Linked DNA regions of Homo sapiens. The protein of the gene in region 1 interacts with the protein of each later gene in a pairwise test. Each region holds a gene or a part of one and is shown in the gene's direction. Other genes may lie near its edges. The genes, in order: DEXI and TBCD.

What was found.
Region 2: the proteins of DEXI (region 1) and TBCD interact in a two-hybrid assay, tested with the Homo sapiens proteins (one large-scale study listed by IntAct).

Annotation. Positions count from the first base shown.
Region 1 is NC_000016.10:10,939,474-10,943,998, reverse strand, and holds the start of DEXI (dexamethasone-induced protein), read left to right. Parts: upstream 1-1,530; 5' UTR 1,531-1,993; coding exon 1,994-2,281; 3' UTR 2,282-2,430; exon of another isoform or gene 2,431-2,813; intron 2,814-4,525.
Region 2 is NC_000017.11:82,762,021-82,765,826, forward strand, and holds part of TBCD (tubulin-specific chaperone D), read left to right. Parts: intron 1-1,944; coding exon 1,945-2,042; intron 2,043-3,806.

The DNA of each region.
Region 1 (4,525 bases):
ATAACAACCTTATTTGTCCTGACAGCCTTTTTCTTTTTCCACTTCAATTAAGTGTGTGTGTGTGTGTGTGTGTGTGTGTGTGTGTGTGTGTGTGTGTGTGTGTGTGTTGGAAAAGGCTGGATGCAACAATGCACCAAACTGAACATTTTGTACTTCCAGAGGATTCCTCTGGTCTTCAGCCAGAATCCATGCTATTTCCCAAAGTACCACGTTAAAATGAAAAAGGAAACACCCAACTTTCTGCATGAGCCAGAATATATCTAACTTCTACCCTGGATTAGAAGTGGTAAGTTCAGTGTGGGCAAGACTTCTCAAGTTTACCATCCATTCATTCATTCAGTCACTTCTACATATCAACCTTATTAAAGGTCCACTGTGTCCCATTAACTCTGCTCAAGAAAGAACTGGGCCAGAGGCCAATGTTCTCCCCAGTGCCTAGCACAAGGTTTGGCACATAGCAGGTGTTTAACAAATATTGGTAGAGTGCATGAATGAGTAAAGGTTTGTTTCACCTTCAGCAGTTGGAGAAATGGATAAGAGTGGAGAGTTAATGGTTTGTCCTGTAATTCATATAGAGTGGGGCAAGACAAAGTCATGGAGCAAAAAAGAACAGGATCTGGCCTCCAAAGAAACACACCCAGGCTCAGAAATGTAGGATCCCTGGGCTCGTATTTTTCATCTGTAAAAAGTACGCACATACATACTACACTGCCTTGTATACCTCCGATTAAGCGATGCATGTAAAATACTCAGCTCAGTGTGGCCTGAGATTTAAAGGTTTCTTGAACTGCTTTGGAAGGCTCTTTGGGCGAGATCATGTTTTCCTGAAAGACATGCAACGGTTACCCAAGAGCAGGGGAACCAGTGGGTGGGAGAGACTCACTTTTCTGTGTACTTCACGGTTGTTTGAATGTTTAGCCATGTGTATTATTGCTTTTAAACATGATTCACAAAGTAAAAAGAAACAAAAAGCATCCTTATGGTTGAAGATCTGAACTACCTCGGAATCTCTTTATTCAGGTGTTCCTTAACTCTAGGATGCAGGTTCCGTAGTGGGCGGACCTTCCAGCAACCAGAGTTTGGAGAAGCGAAGGGGACACTGGTGGATCTCCACCATGAAAATTGGCGCTTTGGGAATGTCCAAAATTTCCAGGGCAACCGTCCGTCGCCCCTCCCCGACCCCGCCTCCTTTTAAAGGAGAAACGGAGTCCCAAAGAGGCATGCAGCAAGGTGCAGCGGTAGCCCGGGTTTCCTTCGGCTTTTGCGGCCTTAGCATTATGTCTAGGTTTGAACTGTGTTCAGTCTCTTTTACCTCCCCCTATTCGATACGCAGAGCGAATTCGATTTGAGATCTGAGGGCAGACCCGAACCAGGAAAGCAACTCAGACGCTAGGGCCCCGAGGGGCGGAGCGAAGCGGTACCCGCCCCCTGGCGGCCGGAGCCAATCAGCGCGGGCGTTGAGCCGGCCAATTAGCGCGTGCAGGGGGCGGCCTGCCAATGAGCTCGGGGCCCCTCGGGAGGCGGAGCTCCGAGCGCCACCGGGAGGGCTACGCGGCGGCCGCAGCCATGGGTGCTGGGCCTGCGGGGGCGCGGGGGGTGCGCGAGGACCTGCGGGGCGGGGCGGGAGAGAAGGCTGCCGGGACCGGCCCTAGACACTGAGCCGCGGTGGGATCCCCACCGGCTCTGCGAGGCCCTGCGAGCGCCAGGGAGGCGCCACGAGGGAGCCGGGCAGCCGCGGGCCACTTCAGGGGGGCCCGCCTCGCCGCCCGGGCGGTCGAGAGATCCTTGGGGGCACATCTCGGGGTGCGGTGACCCGCCCGGCGCATTTCGGGGGTCGGGGCGCAATTGCCAGGGGACATCTGGAGCCCGGCCCTGCTTCTGTCGGGCTCCAGGGTACCCCTGGATGGCTGCGCTGTGCCCTCGCCGGCCGCCCGGGCGCCGCAGCGGCTGAGTTCGCCGGGATCGCCGGGCCGCCGCCCTTGCCACCCGCTGCATGCTCGGCGCCCGGGTCGCGGCCCACCTGGACGCACTGGGCCCCCTGGTCCCCTACGTGCCGCCGCCGCTGCTGCCCTCTATGTTCTACGTGGGCCTGTTCTTCGTCAATGTGCTGATCCTGTACTACGCCTTCCTCATGGAGTACATCGTCCTCAACGTGGGCCTCGTCTTCCTGCCCGAGGACATGGACCAGGCGCTCGTGGACCTCGGCGTGCTCTCCGACCCCGGCTCGGGCCTTTACGATGCTGACTCGGAGCTCGACGTCTTTGATGCGTACTTGGAGTAGGGTCTCGACTGCTGTTCCCCTCTTCCCTACACGATCCGCAACCCATGCCCTGGACCAGCCGCCCAGATCATGCCGCCGCAGCTGGTTGGGGGCACCATCTGGACGGGGATGGTTCCCCAGGAGGAGACCCTCCCCTGCCTCCGAGGCCTGTAAGTGCCCTCTCTGAACAGGATGAGGGCGGGTTGGGGCGCTAGCAAGGGAGAGGGAGGAATTCCCAGGCCGGATACACACCCCTCCCTCAGGCTTCTCCTCCGTTCACCTCCTCCAGGTCTAACTGGATGCCAGGAATGGCCAGACTCCTCTTAAGCCCTTCGTTTGGGCTGGAAAGCTTCCTCCAGCAAAGGGGACAGCTGGTGAAAAGGAAGGAGACCCCGAGACTAAGTTACATTTGGGGTAGCTCTGTGACTTACCCCCAAAGCTTATGGAAAAAGCCTTCGCTCCCAAATCCATTTGAGGCAGAGCTGTCAGCTCCTCCTCCAGTCCTCATCCTGGCTTGATGATGACCTTGGCTTTTGGGGGATTCTCGCTTGTCCTAGAAGGATAAAGATTTAGGGGTGTCAGAAGACACAGGGAGCCAGGCACGAATCACCTTTGTACTGTGGCCCTTGGGGTAGCTGGGTGGGGATTAAGTGCAGGGGCTCTAGGCCAAAGCTGTGAGAGGAGAAATCGCAAGCAAAGAAGCCCGTACTTCCTTTTGGCCTTGGGTTTGCTGCTATTTTGGAGTCAGGTTTCAGGGTGCCCCAGCTCATCAGTTCTGCAGCTCAGAACTGCAGGGGCTGCCAGTTTTGTAGGCTCCCTTCACAGAACAGGCAGGCAGGGAGCTGGTGCCAGGGCTCGCTTTGTCTGCAGTGTTTGCAAGCGCTCAGGGGGCTCTTAGGTCCTCGGGAGAAGGCACCACAGGGTCATTGCACTGAGATGGTCAAGTCCTGTCTTTGGGGCTGTGACGAGGGAGCTTTGCATCCAGCATCCAGCCCACTGTGTATGTGAGAGGTAGGGAAATGAAGGTCCAGGAAGGAGTAAGACTTGGTCATAGTCACAAGGAAGAGAGGCAGCTAGACTCAATTAGAGAGAACACGTGAGCCAGACAAGCTGTCAGGCAGCTGCCAGGTCTGGTGAGGGTCACAGGGCAGGCAGGAACGCCTTGGCTCAGCCCCTGAGACTGGACAGTACTGGAGTGTCACTGGGCACAGGGTCTAAGTGGCAATGAAGAGGGGATGCTGAGATATGGTGGGCAAGGGCTCCTTTAGGAAAATGGACACTAATGCCATTCACCGCAAGCAGGCTGAGTCCACCCCTCTCCTGCATTACCTGGCTTTGCCAAGACAACCACAGGCAGAGGGTGTCTTAGTTCAGTCTGCTATAACAGAACACCATAGGCTGGGGGACTTAAACATTTATCTCTTACTGTTCTTATAAGGGCATTAATCCCACCCATGAAGGCTCTGCCTTCGTGACCTAATCACCTCCCTAAGGCCGCACCCCGCAATACCATCATTTGGGATCAGAGTTTCAACATATGAAGTTTGAGGAGACACAAACATTGAGTCTGTTGCAGATGGTGGTACAGGGTGGGGTAGGACCTACTGACAGCATAGCTGGCGGCAGAGGGCTCTCCTAATGGGTTCACAGTGAGATTTCTTTGAAGAAAAAGCTTCAGTTGAGCTCAGTAACATCTTAGCGAGAACCAAGTGCCAGGGGGAGTGTGTGCCAGGTGCTCTGCACACCTCCCCAGCCTGCCTGCCTGCCTGCCATCCATCCGTCCGTTCTTTTACAGAATGAATGCTTGTTGGTTCAGTACAGTGCCTGGTGATTGAACACAGTGAACAAGACAGACCAAGCCTTGGCCCTTTGGCACTTGGTGAGGAAGACTAGTAGGAACCCAAACAAGAGAATCAGATTTTTTCGGAACTATGAAGGCAGGCAAGAAGGACATGAGCTTCCCTGTTGTGTTCACTGCCATGTCCTCAACACTTAAAACTGTGCCTGGCCTCTAGTAGACGGTCTCTGTAGGTGTAGACATGGAGTGAAACAGAAGTGAAACGGTAGGATAGAGATGGTGGGCTGCTTTAGCTGAGGGGTCAGAGAAAGCCTCTCTAAGGAGATGATGCTTTTGAGCTGAGCCTTAATTTGATAGAAGGATCTGGAGAAAAGCAGTCCAGGCTGAGGGAATCAGTGGTGCCAAGACCTTCAGGTGAGAGAGAGTTGGTTTTTCCGCAACCAAAAGGAGGCCCATGTGGCTGGAGA
Region 2 (3,806 bases), on another chromosome or scaffold:
ATGGACATTTGAGTTGTTTCCGGTTTTTGGCTGTTATTAATAATGCTACTTTTTGGGAGGCTGAGGTGGGCAGATCATGAGGTCAGGAGATTGAGACTATCCTGGCTAACACGGTGAAACCCCATCTCTACTAAAAATACAAAAAATTAGCCCAGTGTGGCGGTGTGCGCATGTAGTCCCAGCTACTTGGGAGGCTGAGGCAGGAAAATTGCTTGAACCCGGGAGGTGGAGGTTGCAGTGAGCCGAGATCTTGCCACTGCACTCCAGCCTGGGTGATAGAGCGAGACTCCGTCTCAAAAAAAAAAAAAAAAAAAGTAATGCTACTGTGAAAATGTTTATGTACAAGTTTTTAGGTAGACAGAGGTTTTATTTTCTCTTGGGAAAATACGCATGTGTGGAATTGCTGAGTAGCAGAAAGTGTCTTACTTGTAGAAAGTGTATGACTTGGCCAGGCGCGGTGGCTCCTACCTGTAATTCTAGCACTTTGGGAGACTGAGGCAGGTGGATTGCCTGAGCTCAGGAGCTCAAGACCAGCCTGGGCAACATGGTAAAACCCCATCTCTACTAAAATACAAAAAATTAGCCGGGTGTGGTGGCAGGTGCCTGTAGTCCCAGCTACTCAGGAGGCTGAGGCACGAGAATTACTTGAATGTGGGAGGCAGAGGTTGCAGTAAGCTGAGATGACACCACTGCACTCCAGCCTGGGTCACAGAGTGAGACTCTGTCTCCAAAAAAAAAAAAAGTGTGTGACTCATCACCTGCCATACTGATGCCATGAAGATTGTACTGTTGACCATTTCTACCAACAAGGTATGAGGATTCCAGCTGCTCTGGGTTCTCTTCAGCACTCAGCGTTGCCAGTCTCTCTGATTTCAGGGAGTGTATCTCGTTGTGTCCTTCTCTGCGTTTCCCGGATGCCAGTTGCAGTTGTTTTCCATGTATGAAGACTTGCAGCCCAGCGTATGGTCTGTTTTGTTGAACATTCCGCGTGCACTTGAGAAAAATGTCTGTTCTGTTGTTGGGTAGATTGTTCTCTAAATGTCACGTAAGTAAGGTGGGTGATAGTGCTGTTTAGGTTTCAGCGATTTTCTCTTACTTGTTCTATCAGTTCCTGAAACAGGAGTGTCGAAGTTTTCAACCGTGTCTCCTTTCATTTCTCTCAGCTTCTTCTGTGCTTATTTTGAAGCTCTGTAGGTTGGTGTGTATACTTACAGAATTGTTAAGTCTTCATGATGAATTGATCCTTTTATTATCATGAAACATTCTGTTTATCTCTGATGGTAATGCTTGTTCTGACATTTACTTTGTCTGATATTAACAGAGCCACTCCAGCTCTTTTATGATTTGTGATTGGTTGGAATATCTTTTTCCTTTTGCTTACGTTTAACCTAGCTATGTCTTTTTGTTTGTTTTTGTTTTTTAAGAGACAGGGTTTTGGGCCAGGTGCGGTGGGCTCACACCTGTAATCCCATCACTTTGGGAGGCCGAGGTGGGTGGATCACCTGAGGTCAGGAGTTCGAGACCAGCCTGGCCAACATGGTGAAACCCCGTCTCTACTAAAAATACAAAAATTAGCCAGGCGTGGTGACGCGTGCCTGTAATTCCAGCTACTTGGGAATCTGAGGGAGGAGAATAGCCTGAACCCGGGAGGTGGAGGTTGCAGTGAGCTGAGATCACGCCACTGCACTCCAGCCTGGGGGACAGAGCAAGACTCTGTCTCAAAAAAAAAGAAAAAAAAGAGACGGGTTTTGCTCTGTTGCCCAGGCTGGAGTGCAATAGTAGGATCATAGCTCATTGCCGCCTTGAAATTCTGGCTTCAAATGATCCTCCCACCTTGGTCTCCCAAAGTGCTGGGAAAACAGGCATGAGCCACCACACCTGGCCGGCCTCAATGTCATGTTGATGTTCACTTTTACAGTAAATGTTTCCTATGTTTTTCCCTAGAATGGATGATGAACTTGTTGTTGGACATAGTGCAAGATCAGACATCTCCAGCTTCCCTTGTACATCTGGCTTTTAAATTTCTTTACATCATCACCAAGGTAACATTTCCATAGCACTTCAGAGTTGACAGATACTTTTGTAATATACTTGGTCCAGAGGTTACCCTCCAAAATGTTATTTCTCAAGAAAGATAGTTCTTAGACACAAGTTGTGGGTTTAATTCTGTCCCTTTTTACTGTATGTTGGGGATCAGAATTTAGTGATGTGGGCTCTTTGGCTGAAACAGTGTCAGGATATTCAGCATCTTGCATTTGAATAGATTGAAGCACTGTGTAGCTAGGAAGGGAATGGGGTGGAGATGAGACTAAATCAGAAAAACTTCTTACAAGGAGAAAGCAGGCCGGGTGCGGTGGCTCATGCCTGTAATCCCAGCACTTTGGGAGGCTGAGGCAGGTGGATCACCTGTGGTCAGGAGTTCGAGATGAGCCTGGCCAACATGGTGAAACCCCGTCTCTACTAAAAATACAAAAATTAGCTGGGCTTGGTGGCACATGACTGTAATCCCAGCTGCTTGGGAGGCTGAGGCGGGAGAATGGCTTGAACCTGAGAGGCAGAGGTTGCAGTGAGCCGAGATCATGCTGTTGCACTCCAGCCTGAGTGACAGAGCGAGACTCTGTGGAAATGGAAGTGCTTCTCACACTTTAATGTGCAGATGAATTTCCTGGGAATTTTGCTGTGCTATAGATTTTGAGCAAGTAGGTCTAGGCGGGGGTCTCATAGTCTGCTTTTCTTACAAGCTTGCGGGTGTCTGTGCTCATAGTCTGCTTTTCTTACAAGCTTGCGGGTGTCTGTGCTCATAGTCTGCTTTTCTTACAAGCTTGCGGGTGTCTGTGCTCATAGTCTGCTTTTCTTACAAGCTTGCGGGTGTCTGTGCTCATAGTCTGCTTTTCTTACAAGCTTGCGGGTGTCTGTGCTCATAGTCTGCTTTTCTTACAAGCTTGCGGGTGTCTGTGCTCATAGTCTGCTTTTCTTACAAGCTTGCGGGTGTCTGTGCTCATAGTCTGCTTTTCTTACAAGCTTGCGGGTGTCTGCTCATAGTCTGCTTTTCTTACAAGCTTGCGGGTGTCTGCTCATAGTCTGCTTTTCTTACAAGCTTGCGGGTGTCTGTGCTCATAGTCTGCTTTTCTTACAAGCTTGCGGGTGTCTGCTCATAGTCTGCTTTTCTTACAAGCTTGCGGGTGTCTGTGCTCATAGTCTGCTTTTCTTACAAGCTTGCGGGTGTCTGTGCTCATAGTCTGCTTTTCTTACAAGCTTGCGGGTGTCTGTGCTCATAGTCTGCTTTTCTTACAAGCTTGCGGGTGTCTGTGCTCATAGTCTGCTTTTCTTACAAGCTTGCGGGTGTCTGCTCATAGTCTGCTTTTCTTACAAGCTTGCGGGTGTCTGTGCTCATAGTCTGCTTTTCTTACAAGCTTGCGGGTGTCTGTGTGCTGGCCCAGAGGCTCACTGTTGGCAGTTTTGACTATGGAAGTACTCACAGCCGTCTCAGGGTGGGGCTTGGGGTTCGTAGTGGCGAGGCGCATTTCTGTTGTCTGGCGGGAAAGTCCTTGGCCAGCGAGAGGACACTGCGGGTGAGCTGCCAAGGACACGCAGGCCTCTGTAGCTCCTCTGTTTGAGGTTAGGATTTCTCCGGAAGGCGTGGTATCACTGAGCTTCAGGGAAGTGTTAATGAATTTGGGCCCTTGCGGTTTGTAGGCACTTATTCCTCATAAATGTCAGAGGACAGTCATATAAATGAACATATTTAATGACTGATTCCGTAAATATGGTAATGAATAACACTACCAATTTAGGAAGGAAATCTT